7 separate regions of the Homo sapiens genome follow, and regions 1, 2, 3, 4, 6 and 7 are each reported to be linked to region 5. The links are microRNA targets in miRTarBase. Many come from high-throughput screens and were not tested one by one. Region 5 holds a microRNA gene; each other region holds the end of a gene's coding sequence.

The links. The annotated mature microRNA hsa-miR-26b-5p reads UUCAAGUAAUUCAGGAUAGGU and lies in region 5 at 1,668-1,688, opposite strand. An mRNA with a match to its seed (bases 2 to 7 or 8) in the 3' UTR can be bound and repressed. Matches are read on the target gene's strand: a 7mer-m8 pairs with bases 2 to 8, a 7mer-A1 pairs with bases 2 to 7 and ends in A, and an 8mer does both.
Region 1: the mRNA of SERPINI2 is a reported target of hsa-miR-26b-5p. The part of its 3' UTR that is shown has no 7-base or 8-base seed match.
Region 2: miRTarBase lists F13B as a target of hsa-miR-26b-5p. The part of its 3' UTR that is shown has no 7-base or 8-base seed match.
Region 3: miRTarBase lists ADAMTS12 as a target of hsa-miR-26b-5p. The part of its 3' UTR that is shown has no 7-base or 8-base seed match.
Region 4: miRTarBase lists GAS2 as a target of hsa-miR-26b-5p. The part of its 3' UTR that is shown has no 7-base or 8-base seed match.
Region 6: the mRNA of TUSC3 is a reported target of hsa-miR-26b-5p. The part of its 3' UTR that is shown has no 7-base or 8-base seed match.
Region 7: the mRNA of TRAPPC13 is a reported target of hsa-miR-26b-5p. Seed matches in the 3' UTR shown: 7mer-A1 at 767-773.

What each region holds. Positions count from the first base shown.
Region 1 is chr3:167,438,423-167,442,519 of GRCh38, forward strand. It overlaps SERPINI2 (serpin family I member 2), which reads right to left. Exons shown (of 9, transcript NM_006217.6): 9 at 3,511-3,763. The coding sequence ends at 3,687. Among named protein-coding and RNA genes, the nearest start is that of SERPINI2, 34 kb to the right of the region's middle.
Region 2 is chr1:197,036,085-197,040,181 of GRCh38, forward strand. F13B (coagulation factor XIII B chain) reads right to left here. Exons shown (of 12, transcript NM_001994.3): 12 at 2,657-3,327. The coding sequence ends at 3,294. Among named protein-coding and RNA genes, the nearest start is that of F13B, 29 kb to the right of the region's middle.
Region 3 is chr5:33,523,940-33,528,036 of GRCh38, reverse strand. It overlaps ADAMTS12 (ADAM metallopeptidase with thrombospondin type 1 motif 12), which reads left to right. Exons shown (of 24, transcript NM_030955.4): 24 at 671-4,097. The coding sequence ends at 849. Among named protein-coding and RNA genes, the nearest start is that of TARS1, 85 kb to the right of the region's middle.
Region 4 is chr11:22,811,307-22,815,394 of GRCh38, reverse strand. It overlaps GAS2 (growth arrest specific 2), which reads right to left. Exons shown (of 8, transcript NM_001143830.3): 8 at 2,394-3,597. The coding sequence ends at 3,379. Among named protein-coding and RNA genes, the nearest start is that of LINC02718, 16 kb to the left of the region's middle.
Region 5 is chr2:218,400,248-218,404,344 of GRCh38, reverse strand. MIR26B (microRNA 26b) reads right to left here and starts at 1,699; the gene lies at 1,623-1,699. CTDSP1 (CTD small phosphatase 1) reads right to left here. Exons shown (of 7, transcript NM_021198.3): 2 at 2,633-2,781; 3 at 2,130-2,234; 4 at 1,940-1,996; 5 at 1,218-1,310; 6 at 928-1,113; 7 at 1-48. RefSeq lists a silencer at 4,030-4,097.
Region 6 is chr8:15,757,024-15,761,023 of GRCh38, forward strand. TUSC3 (tumor suppressor candidate 3) reads left to right here. Exons shown (of 11, transcript NM_006765.4): 10 at 768-832. The coding sequence ends at 786. Among named protein-coding and RNA genes, the nearest start is that of TUSC3, 220 kb to the left of the region's middle.
Region 7 is chr5:65,664,340-65,668,339 of GRCh38, forward strand. TRAPPC13 (trafficking protein particle complex subunit 13) reads left to right here. Exons shown (of 13, transcript NM_024941.4): 12 at 1-45; 13 at 165-1,894. The coding sequence ends at 272. It overlaps SGTB (small glutamine rich tetratricopeptide repeat co-chaperone beta), which reads right to left. Exons shown (of 11, transcript NM_019072.3): 11 at 1,589-4,000. Among named protein-coding and RNA genes, the nearest start is that of TRAPPC13, 41 kb to the left of the region's middle.

The DNA of each region.
Region 1 (4,097 bases), not on the chromosome of region 5:
GCTTTGCCTGTAACCTCTGCCTCCCTGCCTTTAAAAACTCTTACAGTTAAGCCACTGGGTATTTCAGATCTTAAGCATGAGCTGCCTGATTTTCCTTGCTTGCCACCCTGCGATAAATGCCTCACTTTTTCTTCTTGCAAATCCCAATGTCATTGTTTGGCCTTGCTGTGCCAGGCAGGCAGACCCAAGTTCAGTCTGGTAACAACTCCTCTAGAATACGCCATGAATTATAGCTATGTGAAGTCAATAAAACCCAAAGTTTCCAAAAGAAATACTACTATTTTAATAATTATTTTGCCTCCATGAGGAATACAAATATTTCCTATATATGATGTACTGGACTTTTACAAGGGGTATTGACAGTAATTTTATCCCATATTGATTATGGACTGTTGTGAATCCTACAGATTTCATACAGTTTAGCAAAGAAAATTATTTCATACTTATTTTCCTTCATAAATAGATGTATGTTTTGTAAATGTATTCCATATACTTGTAACCTTTATGATGCAAACTTGTAATAACTACTGAGTTACTTACAACTGAAGGAAAAAATTAAATGTTTTAATTTTGGAAGTAGTTCGGCAAATGTATTTCCAGAACATGGTAGAAAATGGGGTTTTTATCTTGAATCCACACAATGAGCTTATGGAAGACACTCCCATTTTTAAGCCAAATGGAAGAAGAACATGAAATCAGAAAAATAAATTACCCAACTTCTGTATAATGCTTTCAGGATCCTCAGTCGGGAACTCGTGGCAGACTTTTAGCAAATCTTATTAAGGAAAACAAATACATTAGGAACACACTGTAAGAATATGTACTTAAAGTGAAACTTGGGTAGTGATCTTATTACATCATCTCAATTATTGAACCCCTCTTATTTTCTTCTTCTGCTTTATTAATGTCATCAGTTATTACCATTTGAAATTACCTTGTTTTTGTATTTGTTCACTGGTTTACTGCTACCAGTAAAATGTCAGCTCCAGGAAGACAAGGACCTTGTCAGATTTGCTCACTAATACATCCCTTGTGCTTAGAAAACTACCTGGAACATAGTGGAAGCTCAATTAAAATTTGTAGAATGAATGAATGAATCCCCAGAGCATGACATTTAATGCATGAAAGAGGATCAGAAGAATTCAGCCAACCCAAGAGAAACAGGAATCTGGACCACAGCTGAATAAAACTACTATCCTCTTAACTCATTATTCTCTCCTTCCTGAAACAAAGACTTATATTTTTAAAACAGATATGTTGTGAGGAATTTATGCCACAAATGCATATTACTAACATATAGATTAGTATTTACTGTGTTATATCTAAGTATGCTCAAATTGAAAGTAGAGTAATGAACATTGCTTTCAATTATGTTATGATTTTTAAGCAATCACAATTCATTCTAAAGTTGGCTTCATAATGTCTTGAGTATTGCTGTAGGTTTTGCTGTAGATGGATACCTAGATTTTGAAAATTAAAATAGAAGGTGGAGGGCAGCAGAATATGCCACCCCAAAAGATGCCACTTTAGCATAAGGGTTATTTTGAGCTAAAGGCAACTGAGAAGAAGTAGATACAGGAAAAGTTATTTGCCTTGCCTAAACAATTTGCCTAAAAACAGAATACAAATTCACAAAGTTATCCCTCCTCCTCTCTCTACCAAGTAGGACAGAATTTGATCACTGAAGATGACTTAAGACCCTTATCATCCTGGAGATATCACCACAGGAATCTACATAACAAATTTTACAAAATAGCCTTTATCTACCATATATTTGCCTTCCTACAATTTACTGCCCTTATAAATCCAAGGTCCTTTTCCTTTGTCATTTCTTCAACCATGTATTGTTCTTTGTCGAAGATGCTATGTAAGCCAGAGTTCTAAGCCACTTCTTTGAGATTTACTCATTTTTTCCTGGGTGTCTTCTATGTGTACATGTGGTATACATGTTAACAAATGTCTGTTTTTCTCTTGTGAATCTTTTGTTTTTTGAGACGAGGACTCACTCTGTTGTCCAGACTACAGTACAGTAGCATAATCATAGTTTACTGCAGCCTCAACCTCCTGGACTCACGTGATCCTCATGCCTTATCCTCTCGAGTAGCTGGGACCACAGGCATGCGCCACCACACCTGGCTATTATTTTTAATTTTTATGTAGACCGGATATCACTATGTTGCCCAGGCTGGTCTTGAACCCCTGGCCTCAAGCGATCCTCCCACCTAAGCCTCTCAAAGTGCTGAGATTACAGATGTGAGCCACCACACCTGGCTATCCTGTATTTTATTACAAGGGATACTAGCTCAAAGCTATGAGAAGTAGAGAGAAAATTACTTTTTCCTTCCCTGCAAAGGGAATATAACTCAGTAATTAAGGTCACAGACTTCTAGCTTGAGTAGTTCTGAGTTCAAATCTACCCACCATATTTATCAGTTGTGTGTCTTTGACTAATTTTATAACATTTTTCAATGTCACTCTCCAGTAGTTCTGAGTTCAAATCTACCCACCATATTTATCAGTTATGCATCTTTGACTAATTTTATAACATTTTTGAATGTCAGTCTCGAGTAGTTCTGAGTTCAAATCTACCCACCATATTTATCAGTTATGTGTCTTTGACTAATTTTATAACATTTTTGAATCTCAGTTTCTTTATCAGGAAGTTAGGTAATGCTGTTTCATAAAAATTTTAGTACATTTAACATAAGGTAAAAAGTGCTTACTTCAGTGAGCCCAACACAAAATTAGGGCTCATTGAGGTGCAGCTATTATCATTAAGCTCTCTGCCAAAATTGCCAAGACAAACAAACAAAAAGGAATTTTACATCATTAGCTTGAAAATGGAAAAACTGTGAAACATGCTATATGAAGTAATATTGGAATGTAGTTTTAGCTTTTGATATTTAGATGTGATGTTTCAGAGTATTCAAGGGAAGGGATCTGCATTTAATCTTTATAGTGCACAATCTTGACTCTAACACTTCCTTGGCTCAGTATTGTAAAATTGTGGAAGTTCAGCTTCCTGAGTCACGCTAATTATGCTGCCACTTTCACCTATAAAAAGAGGAATGCTTTACAGAAGCGCTCAGCATTTCTATGTTGTGTACATTTTAAAACCATAAATCAGTAGAAAAAAAACTGGTATGTTTCAAAAGGTACTGAAACAACATAAATATTAAATGTAACATGTCAAATAACAAGTTAAGATTAGTGAAATACCCAAAGCTCCTCTATTGCAAGGAATACTGGATCTCTGTGTCTTGAGTGACACCCCAGAGAGGCATGTACCATGGCCATTGTCTCTTTATCTTATTTCCCCATGGCTAGAAAATGGTACTATGCCTGAATCTAATAGTCTAGTATTTTAGGGAATAATAAATTTGCTATCTAAGACAAGAATTTGGTATTTAAGATATTATAGACAGGATTGTTCTAACATATGAATGGTAATATTTTACGTACGCTCAAGGTTTTAGATGCATATAGATTTTCTAAAACATACAGAAGGAATGGAAACAAATGCATACCTAATTTTACTTATTCATCAAGACAGATATCTATTACTACAGGCACAGTTTAAAACAGAAAAGACATAAGATATAGAGCAAATATTGTCAAGATGACGATATTTTGCCAATCAGCTATTTTTGAGAAATCATCTTTTATTCTGAGGCTGTGCTTTTCATTCACAGTGAATCTAAATCTCTTCCTTTTATCTCCTGGGTGTCAGGATTTGTCACTCTTCCCATAAACAGAATTGATTCTAGGGAAAAAAAAACAAAAAAATATACTTTAGGAATTTCAGGAGAAAACAACTGACAATAATTAGTTTTTCTTAATATTTAACATGTCATTTGGTCTTTTTTCTCTGTAAGATAAATAGGCAGTGTCTAATAGCAAAGCCTTCTCCTTTGTCTCAAATTCATAATTATATCATTATTAATCATTTTCTGGTAATTTATGAGGTAAATTAACACCCACTACAGCTTGTCATGGAAAAAGCATTAATCCTGTTTTTCATAGAGGGAAACAAAAATAAAGTGACAGAGAGGTGTTCTTCTAAATATAGAGACCCAGTCCGGAGAACATAGCATAAT
Region 2 (4,097 bases), not on the chromosome of region 5:
ACTGATAAGTGAGAGCTCCCAGTAGCTGGAAAAGTAAGTCTTTGTGTTTCTGAAGGAAATCTAGGTGGTTCATCAAAGCATCAACCATAAGAATCAAGTGCTTCCTCAAGAATCACTTGAACCTGGGAAGAGAAGGTTACAGTGAGCTGAGACGGTGCCACTGCACTCCAGCTCTGTCTGGGTGACAGAGCGAGACTCTGACTACAAAAAAAAAAAAAAAAAAAAAAAAATCAAGTGCTTACTTAGTCTTTTCACTTTCCTATCTCACAGATACCTCAAAAGCACATTTCCAAAATTATTAATAAAACTCTTCATGCTAATCCCCACTCCCTCCCATTGCTTCTCCTTGCCATTCTTCCTATCATATTTAGATAGCCACTTAGTCAAGCCAAAACCTAGGAGTCCTCCTGAACTCTTTTCTCTGCCTCACTGTCCCCCACATCTAATCAATTATCATTATAATGATGTCACATCCTAAATATCTTATTTCAGCCTATTTTGTACCATCCTGCTGCTGCCACCGGTGTAAGTGACTACCTTATCTTTGCCAGATGACTGCCTCGTTTTCCTCAGTGATTTCTCTTTGCCCACACTTTTTGCCCTTCAGATCAGTCTCTCCATATTACAGTCAGTGATGTCTTTTAAAAATTCCCAGTAAGCATCGCATTCTATTTAGTGACTTCCAAAATCTTTAATTTGACCTACAAAGGCCTTCACAATCAGGGCTCCAACCTCTCCAAGTTTCGCATACTCCTCTCTGTCCTTCACTCCTTTCCACTCAATCCATACTGGGTTTTTATTAGCTTCTTGGAAATGTCATGTTCTTTGCTGTATTTCATGTTCTTTCTCTACATGAATTCTTATCATTTCTCCCATCCAATCTCAGCCTATATGTCACTTATATATCACTTCCTCACTGAAGACTTTTTAAACACCCAGTACTAGGCAGTATCATCTGGTGTTTACTGACAAAGATGGTGTCTTTGCTGCCATGCCTTATTTTGTAAGGATTTGCTTATATCTTTCTTCCGCTCCGAGAGACAAGCTCCACAAGAGCAGAAACAGTCTGTGTCTTATTCATTGTTTTATTTTCAGTGCTCGGTGTAATGCCTAGCATAGAGTATGAGCTTTGACTTTGCAAATGCCATTCCTTCTACTTGAAGTGTGTTTTCTAGTTTTGTAAACCTCAGATTTACTTTAACTTTTTTCCAAGAAGCTTCCTATACCACATTCATACAAAAAAAAAAAAAGGTTAAATACTACCTACTTTGTGCCACCACTTTACTTCGTACATGCTTCCACTGTTGCACTTTTCAAAATTTTTATTTCTTTAGCATGTGGAGTTTACTTTGAGCTGCACTGCCTAAATAATTTTTTATCTCCTCGCAACATATAAAAATCAGTGCATTTCACAATTAACAAATCAGAACATATGGCAATACTGGATACAATATTCCCCCATGACAATTATTCACCTTGAGCGAAGTAGTTGTCCAGGTTAAACAGTGCATGCCATCTCCAGTTCACTAGAAATATCACTAGATAAGCCACAATCATCACCCATTTTGAGTCTGCAATCACTAGTACAAGTTTATCTCTTTTACTAAGTAAGTAGTTTTTTACTTTGTGAGTTCTTTGAAATAACGAGGTGAATTTTAATCATTTTGAATCCTGTACTACCCAGCATGTTCCCTGGGATATAGCAGGTGCTCAATAATGTTATTTAATTGATAGATTGGGAAATTTATTTAAAAAGATTAATGCTTTTCTGTTGATATTTAATTTTAATTAAATTTCCATTTTTATGAGATCCACTGTGGGAACCTACTACAGGAGATTAATTAAAATAATGAATATGAACTCAAGGACAGTTCTGAAATATACATGTTTAACATTGAATGAATTAATACTTATTTAATCCACAGAGTTAGGTCAGCTGTGGCATCATTTCCAAAAGAAGCTATTTCATACCCAGCAGTAGAGAATTGTACATTGGGCATTTGAGAATATCATCGTAATGAGAAACTAAGATCTTGAGTTAGAAAAACTGAGTAGTTTCTAGAAAGGAAAACTCGTTCTAATACCAACAACCAATCCTAATCGGGGTCCTAGTATCTGGGTACTAGTGCTATTACATATGCTTATGAATGAGCTGAAATAATTAGAAGTATAACTCTCACTTCAAATGAAAAAGTGACAGTGTTGCTGTTTCATGTCTCTAACAGACCTTGATAATACTGACACTCATTTTTTGATGCTTGTAGAACTCTCTTATTTCAGATTTTGTAGTCTGCATAATTCCAAAAATTATTTGATATAAAAAAAGACTTGAAAGTGTAAAATGTAAAAATGCCAAGAGTCCTGGGAGGCCAAGGCGGGTGGATCACATGAGGTCAGGAGTTCGAGGCCAGCCTGGTCAACATGGTGAAACCTTGTCTCTACTAAAAATACAAAAAAAAAAAAAAAACCGTAGCGGGCGTGGTGGTACACGCCTGTAATCCCAGCTACTTGGAAGGCTGAGGAAGGAGAATTGCTTGAACACGGGAGGCAAAAATTGCAGTGAGCCAAGATCATGCCATTGCACTCTAGCCTGGGCGACAGAGCAAGACTCTGTCTCTAAATAAATAAATAAATAAATAAATAAAATTAAATAAAATTCCAAGGGTCATTCTTTCTTTAATTGTGTCTCTTTAACAATATTTGAGCACATGTTCAAATATGGTAGTACACCACCTCATAAACAATTTGGTTATTAACGTTGTAGCAAATATTACAGTTAATTTTAAAAGTTTTTTACATTTAGAAAGTCTGAAGGGCAGTCTCTTCTGCCTTTAATAAGGCAGATCCTCTAATACAGCATATAGTTTCTTATCTCTAGTGTGTTTGGCCCTTTAATAGTGACATAAACTTTGAATTAAGGGTAACAAAAGCCTTAATATTAATAAAGATGATGACGAATGTGAATGTGAAATTTTTGCACATACAGTATATTGAAAACAACTATATAGTCTAGTCAATGGGCATTAGGAAATGAAAATATGATGTGTAGATTAATTTGTAACAGATGGAAGACATACAAAAGAGATTAAGTTCTACATCAAATCATACAAACTAAAAATTAGACATTTATTGGTTTTCATTTATAAATAACGAAATGTTCAGCACAAATAATTTAGATTCAAATATTTAAGCAAGGAAAAACTCCGAAGTTTTTAACTTATTTCCTCAAAATTATATTTTATAAGGAATTTCATGATGTATTGAAATATGACTCCTCTTTCTGCCATTCATTTCTATGTTCTTAAGGGTTCTTGATAAGACAGAGTGCTTGAGGGGAAAAAGAGAGATTTTTGAAATAAGCATCAATTGCAGTCAGGTGTTAATTACAATCTCAGCCTTTCAATTTTTCATATAATGAGTCATTGTTTTTATTAAGTACTAATAAGAATAAATGATCTTACTTAGTAAATAATACCACCAGTTCCCTTTTAAAAATGCAATATTATTTACTACACTACTCATGATTTTTTAAATATTTTCTACGTGTTTACCTTTTTCTCTTAAAAGTGAGAAATTCATACTGTACCAAAACATTTAAATAGCATATAAAATTTTTTCCACCCTGATGCTACCACAATTAGAAATAAAAATAAAAATTTTTCCCACTATTGTGTGTCTTTTAAATATTTTTTTACTAGAGTGGTCAAAGCATCTAAAAAACTGACTTTATGTAGTTCATACAGTTCATTGTTTGCATTTTTTAAAACAGGACCACATGCACTTTGCCACTACTTATATTTTTAATATTCTTAGTTGAACAAAAAATATAATTTCCATTTTTTATATATAGTGTCTTCAAAAAGGGTTAAAATTGTGATCCTACAAAATGGTTTACATCATTTTATTATACTTTTTTAACATTTCTCTAAGAAAATTGTTAAATTATTTCCTGTAAGTAGCAGAGGATATATTTTTTAAACTGTCATATGAGGAAACACTTTAGTATGTAATTTCCAAAAGTTACACAAAAATGTGGTCCTGAAAATAAATACCACATTTTCCAACCTTTATTAGTAGTGCTTGAACTTATATTGAGA
Region 3 (4,097 bases), not on the chromosome of region 5:
CACTCATTGGTTGACGGGCCCTTAGGTTGGTTCCATATCTTTGCAATTGTGAATTGTGCTGCTATAAACATGCATGTGTGTGTGTCTTTTTCATATAATGCACAGTCATGTATTTTTTGCTGAGCATCTATAGGTCAGCCAAGGTTCACATGATTGAGCTTGGCTTTGGTTGACCTTGGCTGCTAACTGTAGGTTGAGTCCAGGTCTGCCCCATGTGTCTCTTATCACCCTTGGTGGCTGCACCAGCCAGGTTCTTCTTATGGTGACAGCAGAAGCTCATCAGGGAAGGCTTGTCCTCCTGCACATTCCAAGTCACTGCAGAGATCGTGTCTACTAGCATCCCATTATCTAAAGCAAGTCACAGAGCTGAACCCAAAGGCAAGTAGTTGGGAAGGATTCTCCACCCACTAGGCAGCCATGGCAAGGAGGGAATGTTCTGTATAAAACAATTACATGGGAGTGAAGAATTGTGACTGATAATTCAGTTTAGCATAAACACTCTGCACAGCGTCTGATACATAATAAACATTCAGTAGATACCACCTATTATGAATTGTTATGGCTCCTTTCTTGGTAGACATATAAAGTCTTACATTAATAGAAGTTGTGCTTGTATATCCACAAAGGATAATCTTTGGACTTTTTTCTTATTCTTTTTCTCCTTCCACAGATTTACTTTGCACTAAGGACAAACTGTCAGCCAGTTTCTGCCAGACACTGAAAGCCATGAAGAAATGTTCTGTGCCCACCGTGAGGGCTGAGTGCTGCTTCTCGTGTCCCCAGACACACATCACACACACCCAAAGGCAAAGAAGGCAACGGTTGCTCCAAAAGTCAAAAGAACTCTAAGCCCAAAAGGAAGCCAGCTTCCACCAGACTGCAGCAGCCTGCTGACCATGACATGCTTTAGCCCTGGGAGCTGCTTCGTTGAGGTTTTGCTTCATATATTTCAGATTCAGCTTTGGGTCATGATGAAACAAAATCCATTGTGTTCCTCTAGCCACCGAATGTCCCTCACAGGAGGCCTAGGCTGCCGTACTTGCTGCTCCCTGATAGGAAGGTGAAATAGCTAGGAGAATCAGGCAGCACCTGGTATCGGCTCCTGGGAAAGGTGCCAGGTTAGACAGATTTGTGAAATACTGTATTTTTGTTCTCCCTTAAAGATAAAAACAAAGAGACCAGCTATTTCCCTGACTACCTCAAGAGTATCAGGCAACACTTACCCAGGGGACAAATAATCTTCTTAATTTATCTTGATGAATACCTTTCTTTTTTTTTTCTTGCCTCCCTGCCTGGGGCAGCTGCTATTTAAAATGTCACAGCGGAGCTTTAGGAACATTCCTTTAATTCATCCAGGCAGAGGACTGCTTTCTTCACCCCATGTTCAACTAGGGCAGGAAGTGCTGGTTACATCCCTCAGTCTCTTCCTCCATCCCTGTAGGGCTCCATATCTGGGCTGCTTAGAGTCTCCTGCCAACCTTGGGACACTAGACTAAGAGGAAACAGGCATAAGAAACACAGCCTAAGGGGTTTAGGTCACTTACACAGAAAACACTTCTGGTTTGAAGAGCATTTCTATGAAAACTCGTAAAATGCAAATGAGCAGAAATCAATTTCTTAATATTACAGAAAAGGAACTGTGGGCCTTTATTCTTCCCACTTTCCTGGCAAATACACACTCCTTTGCAGAAGGGAAAATGTGTCTTCCTGGCTGACTTCCTCCCATCCTCCAGTCCCCACAGGAGGCCTGAGCTCAGGTCCCACCATCGTCTTGCTGCAGGGGCTGTATATGCAAAGACCACTATGACCAGCTCTAGGGCTGCCACCTGTCCTCACCTCTTCTCAGGTTGGAAAATGGAGGTTCCATATTAAAATATTTCAAAGAACCAGGTAAATTGTACTAAGTACAAGAACATAGTGCAAACTTCTAATCTAGAGAAAAAACATTTCTAAAAAGTAAGGTAAAGGGGATCTACTCCTCAGTGTACCCAATATGTAGTTAGTCTTAAAGATCTTTTACTTTGGGGAGAACAGGTGAATCAGGGAGTCCAAAGAAACTGAAATGAAAGTTAGAATGCTTGTTCTGGATGTTCCTACCTCCCACCAGAAGTCAAAGTAGGCTTGGTCTCAAATTCAGAGCAAATTTCTAGACAAAGTGATTTCTAAGGGAAGGTACTTACATGAACTGAACCCAGAGAAAGAGGGTAAGTGGGTGGGTGGAGGGGCATAAGCTTCAAATGAAAGAAGATATCAGAACCAATTCTTGACAGGGAGAAAGGCAAGGATGTGGCCTTCATGTGATGGGCAGCATATTTTCTGACTCATGCACAGATACACTTAATACTCCTCATGGAACACAATATCCCACGTCTCCCTTTACCTATCCGTTCAGCAGAATGGTGCTATTAAAAAAATGGTGCTAATATCTAGATGGTGGCAGAATTAATGTAAACATAGATAGGCATACAAATGGGTAAGTGTATGTGAAACTCTCCATATACATCTTCTGTTAAACATGTAACGGTGTTGCTGACCAATGCCAGTTTTATTGCTTGGGTACCTTGAATTTAAGATTTAATATTATGTGCTTTTTATTTTTTTCCAAGCCATTAACGTGTATTACTCTCATGAATTCCTGTGAAAAATAAAACAGTGGGATTGGGATGAAATTCAAGATAGACCAGAAACAGGAGGAAAGTACAAATGTTTACCTAAAGCCAGAGAATTTATTTCTAGATGATAATTACATTATTGTATTCTCTGCCTTTAAACATAAACATTGCTGGCCGATAGCAATCTCTGGTGAATAATGGTTTTCGAGGAGAGGAGACACTTAAATTGTTAGTGACATGAGTGGAGGAGAATCTGATATTTACTAATGAGGCAGTTTGCAAAGACTGTCCCTGAAGTGTAGTGTAGTCTTTCAGGGGGATTCATTTAGTAAGCTAGATTGATTTAACCTGGTACTGTACTAGCATAGGGTCAAATACGTGTCATCAGAGACCTGGGTATGACCAGGCTTACAAAACTCAGGAACAAACTCAGATTCCTACTGACCTCAACCAACTAAACTAGGCCAAATTTCTCCGTGTACAAAATGGACCACGTTATTTACAATCCACGTGGTGGAGAAGATGGTAGACATGTGGAGAGAGTTTGGCCAGGTGCTCCATTCTAGGTCTTTTTCCAGTTTCTCAAAGGCAGAACATTGGCTCCTAATTATTTGCCATGGATATTTGCTTCCTGTTCTGGAGCTATGTTGTAAGACAGCTGTGTGATGTCCATCATTCTTGACTCCAGAATGAAGACAGGGCTTGCTGTTTTCTGTCCTGTTGGTATCATCTGTTGCCTTGGCGATCACTCAGTGATGAGTCGTCAGTATTTTGACATGTCCCAGTGCTTGCTGTACAAGAGGGGACTCAGATCAACAGGAAGACTCTGAAGACAGGAACCTGCATGGTATCTTACATCTTTGATACTTGGGTGCTGATATGAAGCAGAGTTGTTGATTTACTTTATCTAGGCCCTTCTTTCTTCTCACCTGGATCAAGCAACTGAGAAGTGTATCAGGAGACACTGGATACATATCTCTATGAAATAGAGAGGGCCATCGCAGGGCCTGGTACTTAACTACATTAACGTTCTAAAACCCAGTTTGGTTTACGTTGTCTTTCACAGTAGTATATTTAGCTCTTCTCTGGAAAGTTGTGGGTTAATATAATTCTTAAACATGAAAATGTAATTAAACACACCACGAGAGAACAATATTCCAGGAGACTTAATAGTGATTACTTTCTTCAATCAGGAAATCGTTTCAGTGCCTCCTTTGTAGGAATGCTTTGTTTTGTGATGGGTTTTCTTAAAGAAGAGCACACCTCCGTCCAATCTCCTGAGACAGCCACGTCTCCGCTGACATCCCACTGTGATGCTTTCAGATAGTCAGTGAATGTTTCTGATAACCTTCATCCAGTATCTGAAACACAATGTGAGAGATTATATTGTTTTAGATAATAACATCCCATTTAGTTGACTAAAATCTTCCAAACTCTGAAAGCTGCACACTGCTACTCCAGAGAGTGCAGGTCTTAGCTCTTCTC
Region 4 (4,088 bases), not on the chromosome of region 5:
TCATGAAATAGAATTTTAAGAAAAGAAAAGCATTGGAATTAGAGCCATTACCTGTTTTACCTTAGGCAAATTATTTAAACTTTCTGATGCCTTATGGCCCTTAAAATGCAAAATGAGAGGATTATAAGATTTCATAACTTCATGGTTAATCTGAAGATATTTTACACATTAGAGATGTAGTTGGTTGGTTTCCTTCTTCATATGTCTAGAAAAACTCATTTCATGCTCTTTTCTGAGAGATAGTCAATGGTCTTCAGAAACCCTAAGGACAAAGATAGCCCCAACATGACCCAGAGAGAGGAATCTGAGAAAAAATTTAATTAATCACAAACAAGTTTAAATTTAGTTTACTCACCCAGTGTTCTTAAATGTTCTTTTGGTAACATCTTTGAGGAAGTCAACTCTAGTCGATATTGTCTTTTCAGTGACAAAGTGTCAAGTACCTTATAAGGTGGGCATTGTGTCTTGGATCATTTTTGTAACAAAGTTCCTCTTTCCTTTGAGCTACATTTGGTGATCCAGAGTTTTCTACTCTTTCTCCCTGCTTCTATTCTTTTTGCTAGTACAAAACAATCTGTAGACAAGACAGCTAACAGTTCCTCCAAGTAATTTCTTAACAATAAAAAATGAACACCTCCCAGCGTTCCTGAAATCATTCCTTATATGTCTCTGATTCAAGCACTTTTACCAGGTATCCTGTAGGTACTATTCTGTCCCCACCCACATCAGGAGACACTGAATATGATAGCATTGAGTCACCTAATTTCAGAATCAGCCTAGTCTGCTCAGTGTGTTGATATTATTTCTCACTGTGGCCTTTTTACTATTTACTTGAACTTCTGGTTTGAGATGTTTCCACTCTGTTTGCAACCAGATTTCTAGACTATTTAGACTTTTTAATCCTTTATTCATTGGCTATTGGACCCATCTCTCCATTGTCCTTCTTTGGATCTTACATCTAGCTGAGAATAAGGTGACATTAACCTACTTGGTCTATGTCCTGGCCAGTCTTCAATAAGGAGTTGAGGAGTAAGAGGCTGAATATAGTCTCAGTTTTTTTCACATCCCTGGTTGGTGCCGATTGACTAGCAGCTAGACTCCAGTGCCAGTTGTGACCATGTTTTCAGTGACACTTAAAAGACCATCTTAGATGTGGTATGGGTATCATAATCCTTCCCTCCCTGCCAAACATGTTCATGTCCTAATCCCTGGAAGCTGTGAATATGTTGTTACATGGCAAAGTCGATTCTTTAGATGTGCTCAAGTTAGTGACCTTAAAATAGATTATCCAGGTAGATCCAAGCTAATCATGTGATTGTTAAAAGCAGAAAACCTTTCCAACCTATGAGAGAAAGAGATGTGAAGAAAGAAGACGGGTCATAGAGATGCTACATTGCTGATTTTGAAGATGGAGGAAGGAAATCATGGAGCTTAGGAATGCAGGTGGCCTCTAGAAGATGGAAAAGGAAAGGAAATGGATGCTCCCCTAGACTCTTCAGGAAGGAAAACAGCCTTGGTGACACTCTGATTTTAGCCTATTGAAACCATGTTGAATGACTGCAGAAATGTGAGATAATAAACATGCTTATTCAGCTACCAAGTTTGTGGCAATTTAATGCAGCAATAGATAACTACTAATGCAAAAGATAAAGAGGTTAATATTACTTTTGTTAAGCTACACTTCTTTAATGAAGTTGACTATTATCTTTAATTTTTGTTTTAGAGACAGGCAGTGGAATTATATTATTAAGGATATAAATACGCTTATGGAACAAATTTAGGCACAGGAGAAAATGTTGATGGAAATATTGTCATTAACTATACAAAGAAACTCAGTGTCAGTATTAGGTAATTTAAAGATCTTAATCTTTATCACTCAACATTATATTTTAAAATATATTAGAATTATTCACTGCACCAAGGTGACTATCTCATACAACATCTCAGGGTTTTTTTTTTAATCGATTTATTTTTTTTAGGTTTCACTGACTTTCTCTCCCCCAAATGATTATCATCACTTCCAGCACTACAAAATTATGCCATGCATGTTATTTAAGAACTTCTCAATTAACACATTATGTATATTTTGACTAAATTTGTCATGTGACAAATATTCTTCCTTCCTGACTTTTTGGAGCAAGAAAGGTGGATTCTTTTGTTGATGTTGAAAAATGAATACATGAAAAATTAATTTTCTATCCTTTTTATACTGAGAGCAGCACTTATAATAAAACCTGAACTCTCTGCTAAGGAAAACTAACACCACCATCACTCATCTCCCAAAGTGAAGAAGTGCCAGGGAGCCCTAATTTGATTCTTCTTATAACTGTTGGAGAAAGTTGCCATTTGAAAATTAACTTGATTTCAGAATGAGGCATTGATTTAGAGACAGATAACATTTTTAAAATTTATCCTTTTAATTCTTGAATGAGTAAGGACAATATTTTGCTGTTTATTGGTATAAAACAGCCCTGTCCCAGGTATACAAGGGTATACGTAAGTCTGTAACATCATTAGCTACAGTGAATTTACTTTACTAGAAAGCATAGCAAAATAGGATTAACTAAAGATATATTTTTAATAAGAAAATGCTTTGAAATAACATGAAATCAATGAACATTTGACTGTACAATTTACTCGTCAAAGTATCAACGTATGTCAGCTCATGTATGAATTACACTAGATCATTCTAAACACAGCCATGTGCTCAGGAATGTGTGAAATAACTCATAAGCTATTCTCTAAGGGGGTGTACTGAAAACTTCTAAAAGTACCCCAGATATTTGGTCATAGATAAGAGATATACTTTAAGGCAGCCTTCCAAGTGAATGTAAACTTTTCGGAAGTGGCCTTTCCAGTAACATATTACTATTGTGAATACTCTGTACTTATGTGTAGTGCTGTTGGATATTTTTTGCAGCACATTATCACACTAATCATCATTTTGTAAAAAAAAAAAAAAAAAAGCATAAAAATCTTGCAATTATAAAAATGTCTGGAGTGCTTTTACTCATGAGTGTAAAGCAGGCACTTTCTGTTGACTTATCTGCAAATCCTAAATGTTTTCTCCTTATTTATCTTTAGTTAGAATTGTGTTTCTAATATTGTGTTCTAAATACTGTGTTCGCATATTGAGAAATAATAATTTGCCTAAAATTTGGATAATTTAAATTTGAGTTTAGATTTTCTTTTAATAGGTCATATTCTACAGAAGCATTAAAAATAAATAGTGCTACTCTTTGAACATTTTTCAATATGATGACATTTTTCTGTCTATCTTTCTCCAAAACAGTTTTCAGAACATATGAACTAAACTGACTATACTGGAGAAGTGGATACAGGCCATTATGAGGGTCCCCTTGTCATGACCAATTTGTTTCACTTAATTTCCTTCTTAGCCTTATAACTGGCAGAGACCACCAAGTAGTTATCTGGATTCATGTCCTTTAGAGTTGGAGATTTGCTTTGGATAGGGGATGTTTTGCCATCCACACGGGAGATCTGCAGCATTCGGCAGGGGTCGTGTTTCAACAAATACCCTGCAAAAGTTTCCCAGCCTCCTCCCACACGGACCATGACATGTTTGTTGTGCAGCATCTGAAATGAAAAAATATCAAAAGTGTTAAATTCCGAGAATTCTTACAGTACCTTGAATCAACCCCTGGTTCTAGTGAAATTAGTGTTTTGGTTTGTATTTCATGACCCATTGTTTTTCTACTTGGTGCAAAATGTCTGAGTTAGCATATAGTCTATGAAAGAAGTCCTGTTTTTTTTCTGTGGAAGTGATAAGAATAAACATCTCCAGAACCCAGCTTTGCTGTGCTATGGGAACCAGCACCTACGTATAATTCTTTGGTTTAATGTGTCTGGAGGCTTCTCTCTGACATCTGATCTTCTATTACAGTTCTTATTACTGCCTCTGGTTCCTGCCTACTGACTCAGCTTAGTGCTCCATTTTTCCCAGTGGGTTATTCCCCTCTGAATCAGGATTTTAAGGACCATGGAAATGTCTGCTACTGAATTACAATGCTAAGAGTCAGACAAATACTCAATACAAAATAACATTGAAAGTGCACTAAAAAAATTAT
Region 5 (4,097 bases):
GTGGAGCTCTGTGTCACTCATGTTGTCAAACCACGAGGCCACCGGTACCTGGGGAAGTGGGTGTAGGAAGATGAGGGGGGCAGGTGGTCCTGGGTGCAGAATTTCCAGGCCAGCCCTATGTAGCCACTACTCAGATCATGCAGTTTCTGAAAACCCCTCACCCACAGTGTTCAAACTTTTTTGACAGCAATCCCCAGGAAAACACATTTATAACGTAACAATGCAAAAGCTTCACAATTCCTAACCTTATCTGTGCGAAGCACTCGGATACTTTTTTTTTTTTTTGAGGCAGGGTCTTGCTCTGTTGCCCAGGCTAGAGTGCAGTGGCACAATCTTGGCTCACCACAGCCTCTGCCTCCAGGGCTCAAGTGATACTCCTACCTCAGCCTTCTGCATAGCCGGGACTCCAGGCATGCGCCACCACGCCTGGCTAGTTTTTGTATTTTTTGTAGACATAAGGTTTCACTATGTTGCCGAGGCTGGTCTTGAACTACTGGGCTCAGCTACCTGCCCACCTCAGCTTCCCAAAGTGCTGGGATTACAGGCATGAGCCACTGCACCCGACCGGATATTTTCTATTCTATTTCATTTTGTTAAAATTCCCAATCAGAACCCACTAAATTAATTCTGTGGGCCATCAGTAGGTCACAACTGGCAATTCGAAAAATTGAAACTTTCCAAACTCCGTTGCCCTGTGGGGGCCCCTGTGCATGGCAGATGCTCTGCTTTGTGCGAGGGGAAAAGACCATATGGCTACAGGGCAGGTGGATGAGGGGAGTGGGCGGCAGGCACAGGCAATGAATGCAGGAAGGACTGGGAGGGCACCCACCCCCCAACTGGGGATCCAAGAGGCCAAGGTGGCCTGAATGGACTGACCCCTTCCTGGGTCTCAGCTCCTGTCCCAGTCCCAGTCCAGCCCGCACTCACAGCATTGTCTGGATGGAAGACATAGGAGGCAGGTGAATTGTCCAGGATGAGCACCCGCCGCAGGTCTCGACCCAACCGGCTCAGGTCCTTCACGTAGTTCCCCCGGTGGAAGACGCAGGACTCTCGAAACAGCCGGGCCCGGAAGGCCCCCCATTTGTCCAGCAGGTCAGCTACTGGGTCTGCGTACTGGGAGCAGGAGGTGGGTCATCCTGGGGCCCGCAGGTTCATTGGGCTGCATGCGGGAGGTAGGTAGGAGGGCAGGGTTGCCCCGGGACCCCTGTGGGGCTCACCTTGGCGAGGCTAGCAGTGAACAGCACACATTCAAAGAGCTCGCCCATTCGCTGCAGGAACTCATCCACGTGAGGACGCTTCAACACGTAGACCTGGGGGGCGGGCCAGTGAGGGGGCTGCGGGCCAGTGGGGCAGTGTGGGGGTGGCCGAGGGCTGGCAGGGCATGGGCCAGGGAGGCAGAGGCGCACAGGAAGGAGACTGGGCCCGCAGGCTCCGCTTGGCCAGCTACCCTGACCACTGCTGGGGAAACTGTACCCACCCCCCGCCAGAAAACGATCAAAACTTCCACTCCACTGGCCAGTCCTACCTCACGAGGTCCCTAATTCCCAATCCCTTCCCCTGCCTCAACCTCAGCCTAGTGCAGGAATCCAGGGGCAGCCCCCTCACCCCAAGGCTGCAGGGCACCGGTCCCCGAGCCAAGTAATGGAGAACAGGCTGGACAGCACACAACCTATCCTGAATTACTTGAACTGGGTCCCGGGCAGGGTGGGGCGAGGGAGCACAGCACGGGGGAGCCTAGAGGAGGAGCCCACTCTGCAGGCTTGGAGTCAGCACAAGCCCTTGAGGTTCTGTGTGACTTTGGGACAAGTCTCACACCCTCTCTGGGCCTCTGACATTCCACATGTATCCAATTCCCATCCGAGGCGCTCCGGATTGGTGGGAAGAGCCTAGGGTCTGGAGGCAGATGCCAAGCCCACCACTGCCTCTTCCTGGCCCTCACCTGGTGGACCACCCCATCAATCTCCACAGGGATGATGAAGTCCGCGTTGTTCACTGGCTGTGGGGGGAAAAGAGCTGCTGGAGTTGGAGGAGGAGCCCCAGGGCATGGGGTCCAGCACACACCTCCCTCCCAGGCCAGGGTGGGGGATGCCCCCCGAGACCCGGGCTGAGGGCTGTTGAGCAGGGCCCACCTTGAAGGAGCTGTGCACCAGGGTCTCGTCCAGGTCGATGACCACGCAGATCTTGTCTGAGTCCTGGGCCTTGGCCTCAGGGAGCAGGTATTGGACTGGGGTCTGCTGTAGGGAGGGCGGGGCTGGCTGGGGTGCCTCTCTCCGGGCCTGGTCCTTCCTCCCACGCAGGCTTCTCCCCCTAGCCGTCTCCAGAGGAACCCCAGGCCCCAGGAACAGATACTTCCCCCTTCCCAGCTTTGCCCCTGCCAGCTCTAGGGCTTGGGTAGGCCTCTTGGCTCTTTGAGACCTCTCTAAAAACCAAGGTAGGAAAAAGCTTCCACTTATGAGGGAGAATTCAGTTTCCCCACAGTGGGCAGGGCCTGGCAGGGGAGGCTGCCACCCTCCTACTCTGCACCTTTCAGGTCTGCAAGTCCATCCTGAAAAGCTCAGTCAGGAGCCCCTTCCCCTAAAGCCCTGAAGACTGAGTCCAGGTGCCCCCGTGGCCCCACCTGGCCCCCACGCACCTTAGGGATGGCGCCATTCTCCTCCACAAGCAGGGGCGCCCCGCTGTGAGCAGGCAGGGCCTCCCCATCATCCCGGCAGACACAGCAGAAGAGTGAGTGGAGGATGCCCCGGCTTCGGGGCTTCTGGGAAGCTGCTGACTTCTGGTCACCTGAAGTAGGGAGGCACAAGTTGGAGGCTCGGTGCACACTGGCCTGCAGAATCCTGCATGTGTGCCCAGGTGTGAACCCCTGAGCCAGGAGGATCTTGCCGTGGCCCCTTCATCCAGACACACGAAGGCAGCTCCTGACTTTCTCTGAAACGCCCCTGTCAGGGCTCCACAATCAACTGCAAGGCTCCTGCAGCTCCCAGACAAATAGGTCTAGCAGGTATTAAGGCGCCCACATAGGGAGTGCGTGGCCTGGAGAAGGAGGTCCTGGGGTGCTCTCTCCCTGCCTCTCACAGCCTCCATGACTGCTGCTGATCAGCCCCATTGCGGTGCCTCCTGACCCCACCTTACCTGAGCACCCCTGCTCAGGACAGCCAGGGCCTGGGACCCAGGGCAGTCCACCCCTGCCCTCCCTCCATCCTCTCCACCCCCGTGGGTACGAAGTCCTCACTGCGGCTGGGCCCAGAGGCAGGGGTGCAGTCCCGCGGCCTGGGGCCAGTGTCCAGTGGCCATCTGTTTGCCCTGCCCCGCCCAGACCTCCGACCTGGAGCCCAGCAGCCTGATTGACAGATACCCCTCCCACCCCACCCCCCTCCGGCCCCCTGCAACTAGCCTTTCCACCTTGCCCTCAGTTCCGGGGCAGCCAGACCCAGGCGAGGGTGGGCAGACCTGGGGGCAGCGTCCAGATCCTGAGGTCCACACGGGGAAAAGGAGAAGACAGACCCCCCCACCCCGGCCCAGCCACGCTGGGGGACGCAGCCTCGTCGGGGCGGCGAGGCTTTGCGGGGTGGTGCGTGCCCACTAGGCGCACGACTCTCCCCGCGGGCGCCAAGCGACTCTTGGAAGTGCCGGCCGTCCTCTCTGTGCCTCCGAGGGGGTCGGCGCCTCCACGCGTGACGCGAAGTTTGTGGGGAACGTAGCTGTGTGTTGGCGGGAGATCCCTCCAAGCCTCCCCAGCCTGCTGTCACCTCGGCGCCCCCTCCCAAGACCCTACCGGACCGCAGCCCGGGGGGGTGGGGGTGGGGGGTGGGGCGGAGTCTCAGCGGGTGGCCCATAGGCGCCCTCCTCAGCTCCCCCATCTCCCAGCCCCATTGGCGCCAATGGTGGGGGGGCGCCCATGCACCACGCAATGCCTGCCAGGAAACCCCCGAAGAGTTCCCTCTCTATTCCTGCCTCAGTTTCCTCACCTCGAGCGAACAGGAGCGCCCCAAAGGCGCCAGGCCCCGCCCCGCGTCTCTGAGCCTCCTCTGAGTTCAAACTCTCTCCCTGCTCCCTCTCGGGCTGGGAGCTTCGGGCACAGCTAAGGCGGCCGCCCGGGG
Region 6 (4,000 bases), not on the chromosome of region 5:
TACTGGGGAAGCTGAGGTGGAAATATCACTCGAGCCCAGGAGTTTGAGGCTGCAAGTGAGCTATGATTGTGCCACTGCACTCCAGCCTGTGCCACAGACTGAGAATCTGTCTCTAAAAAAACTCGTTCTTAAAAAAGAGGTATCGCAGTTCCAATTCTAAGCTGGGTGATAACAAGTGAAAAACAGAATATATAAATTAAGCTTACAGTGGACACAGAAAGTGGCTTCCATTGTCTTAAAACGAAACTGATAGTTTCTAATGTCGTTGGTTACCTTGAGATGAAAATGGAATGATATTCAGTAAGGAAATGTACAGAATAACAGCTAAAAATGAAAGGCATTCATACCAATTTTGAAAAAAGTATGATAGTGAACAAGTACAGCAAGGCAAAAATTCCAGCATGTAGAGGGTATAGCAATTTTGCATTGATTTGTACATCTTAACAACCTTAAGCTGTACAAATAGAACAATAATATCTAAATGGTGTGATGATCAGCCCACAGTACACATCATTGATGAGAATTTCACTGGTCTCAACCTTTCTCATGCTGAGTCCTGGCTTTGTAAAATGACTTATAAAGGTCCAAGGATTTAGAGATGATTAAGAGATAAGCTGGCATTCTGTAAAGGCACCATCGTCTATCCCCTGTCTTATCTAGATAAAGAATGTAGTGCTAAATCTTGTAATAATATTGTACAAATGGAAATTCAATCTTAAGGATTATTTTTTCCATATTGTTGTATTTCATTGTGGTGTATTGGAAAGTGATCTGGACTTTGAGTGAGAAGATGTGATTTGGACCATGGCACTTAAAAACTCTATAACCTCAGGCAAGTCTTTTAATCTTCTCTGAGCCTCAGTTTTCCTCATTTTTCAAATATAGAGAGTATAACATTTATCTCATAAGACAAGTTGTAGTAAATTACTGTTTTACAAATGTAAGATAACTTTTAACTGTGAGATTCCATATTCCAGTCTTACATTATTATGTTTATCTGCCACAGGGAGAAGTCCTCAGATAAAAATGTCTACCAAAAGACTGACACGTGGAGTTAATCATTTGACAGATGCAATGCTTCCACCCCCAACAAATATACTTTCTTAACTTCTGTTTGTTATCACTTAGGGAAAAAAGGCAGTCAACAAATATATTTCATTCTATCTAGGAAAAATGTAGCCAAATCTTTTTTCCCATTAACAAATAATGTAAGCCTTAATATTCAAGGGTAATAAAAAATACAAGTCTTCCAAACAGTTAACTTACTGAAAACTTTTTTAAAATCAACATTTGCTAAATTCAGAAACAGATAGTAGGTACTTTATTTATATATATATAAAATTACTGTCAATTTTATATATATATAATTTTACATAAAAATATAATTTTATATGTATGTAAAATTGACAGTAATTTTTTGCAGAAAATTCACAATCCAGTTTTTTGATTCCACACTGCACATCCCACCCCCTCAAGACCAGAGAACACAGGGTCTAGGCTAACACATCAAAAGCAGCTCTGGAGACTTAATTCCATTGTGGTAATACAGCCTTCTTACTCTGGCAGAAGCTCCATACCGTTCAGCAACCCACTGAACGTAGGGAAGGAATGGGAAGCTCCTGTGTTCCAAAAGAGTTCTGAACTGGCTCTTCATCTGTCCCTTAGCCCCTGCATTCTAGTTTTATTGTTCTTCTCCCCCCAGATTGACTATCCATGTTCTGGTCATTCCTCATTGTTAAATGTGGTTAACACTTTACATAGGCCTCTCTGTGGAGGCTGTGTAGAAAATTGGCCTGAGCACTAGGAGACTGGACTGCTGTTGCCCCATGAAATGACAGATCTAAAAAGCTTCCATTCCCAGAGATGTTTTCCTACTCTCAATAAAGGCCTAGATTTCTTTAGGCCTTTTTAGAAGACCACTTGTTTTAGACTCAAAGACTTTTCTGGGTTTAGCAATCTTCTATTACAGAGAAGAGAGCCCCAGGACTTTTGGCTAAAGAATTCTAGCTAAGGGCCACAATGTACTTCTCGCTAGCATTCTCATAGAACACATGTGAATGTAGAGTAGAGATTAAAAAGAATGACTCAGTGAGTTACACTACCCACAAGGTCAATGGGCCGGAATGAAAATTCAACCACTGGCCTATCTGTGCTTAGTGAACAACCCAGACCTTTTTTCCCGTTTGCACCTTTTTTGGATACCAAATGAAATCTGAGCAGCTGCCCCTTACCCACCCACATAAGTGATGTGAGACAGGTGACATTATGTAACCACTGGGTCTTCCTGACTTCCTCTCCAGTTTAAGAACAGGAAGAGCAGTGCACAAATATGTTCTGTCGAGCTGAGGATATCGGAACTTAACCGGCTTCCACTTGGACAGAATACATTTGTTCCAGAACACTGTGTACATTCTGGGTTTTCCAAATATGAGAAACAGATGGAGTCATTAATTCAAGATAAATAAAAAAAACAAAACAAACAGCAAGCCATTATTTGCTACCTGTTCAGATATTTCACAGGAAGGGAAAAGGAACAAACAAGCTTTTGATATACCCTCGGTCTCCAGTAACCACCAGTGACCAAATCCAAAGTTCTCTTCATGTGACCTTTCTAGCATTTTAGTTGACAAGCCCCTCTTGGAAACTTCATACCCTGGATTTTGTAACATGGCATTCTTACACCTTCCTTTTTTCTCTTAGATTATTTCTCAGTCCTGAATATACATTATCAAGTCCTGACCTTTCTCATGACATCCAGAACCAGACCTGAATACCACATTAACAGTTCACCTCACTACGTTAAAAAATCATTATCATCTGCCTCCAAATCTCTTTCTCCACCCCTTTTCCCCGACACTGTCATTGTCACAGTCACACAAGATGGAAATCTTGAAGTCATTTTGTCCTCATCCTCATCCTTCTTTATGTTATTTGGCCTACATTACTTTTCTGTTCCCACAGTTGCTGTCTTGAGTACCTTGTGTCTTTTTCTGACTATAACCGAGCCTCTTAAATTGTCTCCCGGTATCTAGTCATTATCCCCCATAATACATCACTTATTGTAGGGTAGTGTCAGAATTATTTTAAGATATGCGCTGATCATGTTGCTTCTTCATTAAAATTCATTAATAGCTAATAACAAAGAGGAAGGCAAAGTTAATACATGTTCCTTCTAGAAGATACAGGTAAGCAAAATGAAGAAAATATATTCATAAATCCCAACACCCAGGTCATCAAATGTCATCAGTTTAGCCTGTACATATTTTGAACCTTGGGAATTATGTAATACATATTTTGTAAGCTGCTTATTTTTCTTTTATACATCATGAGCATATTCCTATGCAGTTAACTACATTCTACAATATATATGATTTTACACCTATGTAGTAATATCAATGTATGAATTGCCACAACTATTTTAAGTTTTATGCCATCCAGCTTTTTATGGTGTATCTTTCAGTACACCCTGTGGTTTAATACAAGACTAAGTAACTGCTGTCTGTGTTAGTTTATCCTACAAACTAAGAATGGCTTCTACAGTTCTAAATCATTGGGGGGTGGGACGTCAACAAAGAATATTTTGTGACATGAAAATTATGAAATTCAGATATCAGTGCCTATGAATAAAGTTTCATTGAAACGCAGCCAGGTTTGTTTTATGTGTTGGCTGCTTTTGCACTACGACAGTTCAGCTGAGTGGTTTCAGCAAAGACCCATGGCCCACAAAGTTTAAAATACTTAACCTTCTGGCTCTTTACAGAAAATGTGCTAACTCCCGGTTTAGCCATGCTGAACACAGCACTGAATATGTTCCCATACTTTCATACCTTTCCTCATCCAGTTTCTTCGGTCGAGGCTGCTGTCCCTGCATCTTACTTGTTCTCAGAGTTTTGCTTTTTCAGTTCTTGTAACACCGTCATCATCTCAAATATGTCACTGTATCATACTTAATCACACCCAGGTCTTTCCTTTAGCTAAAAGAAATGTAAGGGCCATGACT
Region 7 (4,000 bases), not on the chromosome of region 5:
CTCTGTCTTGCCCTTACTCTGCTTTCTTCAGTACAGGGACTGCAAGTATGCTGTCTTTTCAAAAATTCCAATATTTGGGTGCTGTTAACTTACAAGTCATTTGTGATGTCTGTATTTCCTCTGAATGAATGAAAACTTAGACTCATCTCTCTCTCTCTCAATAGAGCATCTCTGGCTTAAGACTAACAGACACATTCTTAAAGAGAACATATGAATATGATGACATCGCACAAGTCTGTGTGGTATCTTCTGCCATTAAAGTGGAAAGCTGAAGGAAACTTCCAATGTTAGGCTTTTCATTTAGTTTCACAGAACTGCTCTTTTTGTTACCTTTGTAAAATGATGACGTCAACAACGAAGTAAATATGTTACTTAAATTTTCTTTCCTGTAAAATGGTTAAAATATTAAATATTTGTTTTGAAGAGATCTGATTTTATCTTGTAATTTATATTTGAAATGAACATGTGTATATTTTCTACACCTATTATTTAATTTCATTTCATTTTAGATGACCATTGGACTTTGTTCTCCAAAAGCTGTGTATCTGAGACCATTTGTCCCTAGCAAGTTATCTAGAACACGAGTCAGCACACTTTTTATGTAAGGTACAAGATACTAAATATTTTAGGCTTTGCAGGCCGTAAGGTTTCTGTCACAAATACTGAACTCTGCCATCGTACTTCAAGAGCAGCCAGTAGGCAAAAAAAGTACAGTGGTGTACACAAAAAGAAGCAGTTGGACTCGGGAAGCTGAGGCAGGAGAATCACTTGAACCGGGGAGGCAGAGGTTGCAGTTAAGCCGAGATCATGCTACTGCACTCTAGCCTGAGCGACAGAGTGAGACTCTGTCTCAAAAAAAAAGAGGCAGCTGGGCAGATTTGGCCTGCAGGGTATAGTTGGCTGACCTCAATCTAGAAGATAGAGTTGTTTCTTAGAACTTTGTAATATTTTGGTTAGAAATATTTCAGTTAACTCCAGTTTTTTCCTAGCTATTCGGTCAGCAGAAAAAGTTTGCTTAAAACAAAGGGGGTAGTCCTCTTATAACCTGATATTTGTCAACACAGTATAAGCTTTCTAGTTGTTTTCAAAATTACTGTAATGGTTTGTGTCTGTATTTGTATATTATACCTACAAACATACATATCTTTCAGCTACTGAACACATCAGAATTGGTTTTACTTTTTAGGTTGTTGATTTTTTTTAATTAACTATTAACTAAGAATAATACTTATTTTCTAATTATAAGCCAAAAACCCCTGGGTTTTTTTCTCATTGATTAAGCCACTTATTTTTATAAGGTATATTTAAATAATTCCCATCTTCTGATATGATTTTAAACTCTAAATCATGTGTTACTGTTACAAAACTTTCTCTCTCCATGTAATCACACTTAGTTATGAGCAAAGCAGTGAGAAAGTTGAGGTGATAAACAACTTTGCAGCATTAATGTAACAAAAAGTTTCAGTATTTGTCAGGAAAACAAAAGCTTAGGCTGTTAAATAAAAGCTATTCTATTTTGGTAAGTTGAAATTCAAGAATGTATATATAATTTCTTAAATGTAAGAGTGCATTAAATCAAATACAAAAATTGGTTTTTCAATGCATCATTATTTATTGCCATAACAAATTGTTTGGTCCAAAATGAAAGCTATATTCAGAAGGTTTGCACCTCAAAATTGAGTAATAATTAATGAAATGTCTGTACAAAATAAAGTGCAAGCAGTGTAAAATTGAAGTCTGTCTTTGTTTCAAAATGATTAAGATTAAATGATGAAATAATATTTTATAGCCACTGCATTGGATACTTGGATTGTTTTTCAAGCATCTTCTTATGACTAAATCTTCTGTTTCATTCTGTTTTAAATCTAAAAAGTAAAATGATGGTCACTTGGAATCTGCTCTATATTTTAATTATAGTCTCTTCTGTTTATAAACAATAACTTACACATATTTTTCATAGTTTTAAGTAAAGATTAAATAATGCCATCTTAGAAAGGATCTGTTTAACCTATATTATAAAAGTTAGATACACAATTTGGTACATTAAATGAAAATGTCATTTGCATATATAGAACCTGTTCTGTTTTACACAGTATCATAATAGCTACAGCTACTACAAGAAATATGGTTAATGGAAGTCAAACATTTAGTACGATGCTTAAAGAGTTACTTTAATAATGCCCTCTTATTTTTCTAGTTAGATAGCAACTATATTTCCCAGACAAGCAAGAAAATATATGGGGCATTTTTTATAAATTTAAAAGTAGCTAGCACAATCCAACCACGCAACTTTTTTTGAAATAGCTTGCAATGCTATGATTCCAAAGTGATCAAGGTACTTGAAGAGCAAAAATGGCTTGAATAGAATGGAAATGTAGGCAAGTGGACAGATAGCATCTAGATTGAATTTGTTACAGGTGGTATATTAGCAAAGAAATAGAAAAATGAAATGGAAGAAATATACCAATTCCCATTATTTCATGTAAAAAGAATGGCTAATTTAACTACAGATGTTAGCACATGAAGACATTGTTTTAAAGTTTTTTTTCTTATAGTATCTTTGTCTGGGTAATACTGGTCAAATAAAATGAGTTGGGAAGTATTTCCTCCTCTTCTGTTTCCTGGAAGAGATTGTTTAGAATTGATATTATTTCTCCCTTAAGTGTTTGGTAAAATTCATCACGGAAGTTATCTGGGCCTGTAGTTTTCTTTACTGGAAGGTTTTTAACTTAACCACAAACTCAATTTCCTTAATAAATATGGTTCTGTTTAGGTTATCTGTTTCTACAGTGAGCTTTCTAGTTTGTATCCTATAGGGAATCTGTTTCATCTAAGTTGTTAAATATACAATCCTTGAGTTGGTCATGGTGTTTTCTAGTTAGCCTTTTAATAACTATAGTGTCTGTAGTGTATTCCCTTTCATTTCTGACACTGAATTTGTATCTTCTGTTTTTCTAGGCAGTCAGCTAGAAGCTTATCTTATTGCTCTAAAAGCATTTTTAATGCACTCAAGATAGTTATGCTAGAAACTTTAACTTCTTATTCAACACTGAATATGAGTGACTAATTTTTAATTAAGGATCTATTTTGCTTTTTATATCACAGTAATGACTTCTATGTGTTAGTAGTAGTACTTCGTTCTGTGTAATACTGGAATACTAGGAGTTCATTCTAACTTAATGAAAATCAAAGTTGGCTTAGATGGAATATGAATTTAACTTCTGAGGGCCGAAGACTTAAATTGTGCTCTTTTTAAATTCTGCAGAACTATATATCTTCATACAGATCTTCGTTGTAGCTTTGTTTGGCCCAGGTGCTTAGGTGTTTGCAGGTCTGAGAAACCTCTAACCTAGTGTTCCTCTAAATTAGAGTCCTTGGATCTGTATCAAAACCACCTAGTGTACTGTTTAAAAATGGCCATTCCTAGGCCTTATTACAGGACCTACTGTATCAGAATTGAACACGTGGCCCTGAATCTGCATCTTTAATGAATTATCCAGGTGATTCTTACAATGAAGTTATAGAACTACTGTTCTAATGTCACAAAGGAGAAAGAGAAAAGTTGGATTTTAAACTTCAAGATACAAAATAATTAGTCTCTTAGTCTCTTTTTCTTTTTTTTTTTTTTTTTGAAATGGAGTCTTGCTCTGTCACCCAGGCTGGAGTGCAGTGGCGCAATCTTGGCTCACTGCAACCTCTGCCTCTCAGGTTCGAGCAATTCTCATGCTTCAGCCTCCCAAGTAGCTGGGACTACGGGTGCCCGCCACCAAGCCAGGCTAATTTTTGTATTTTCAGTAGAGGTGGGTTTCACCATGTTGGCCAGGCTGGTCTCAAACTCCTGACCTCAGGTGATCCCCCCTGCCTTGGCCTCCCAAAGTGCTGGGATTACAGGCATGAGCCACAGCGCCCGGCCAATTAGTCTTTTGATAAGGGTTCTATAAGGCCTAATCATCTGCATTATTACTCATTTAATTGTATATTACTTCCTGGCCAGGCACAG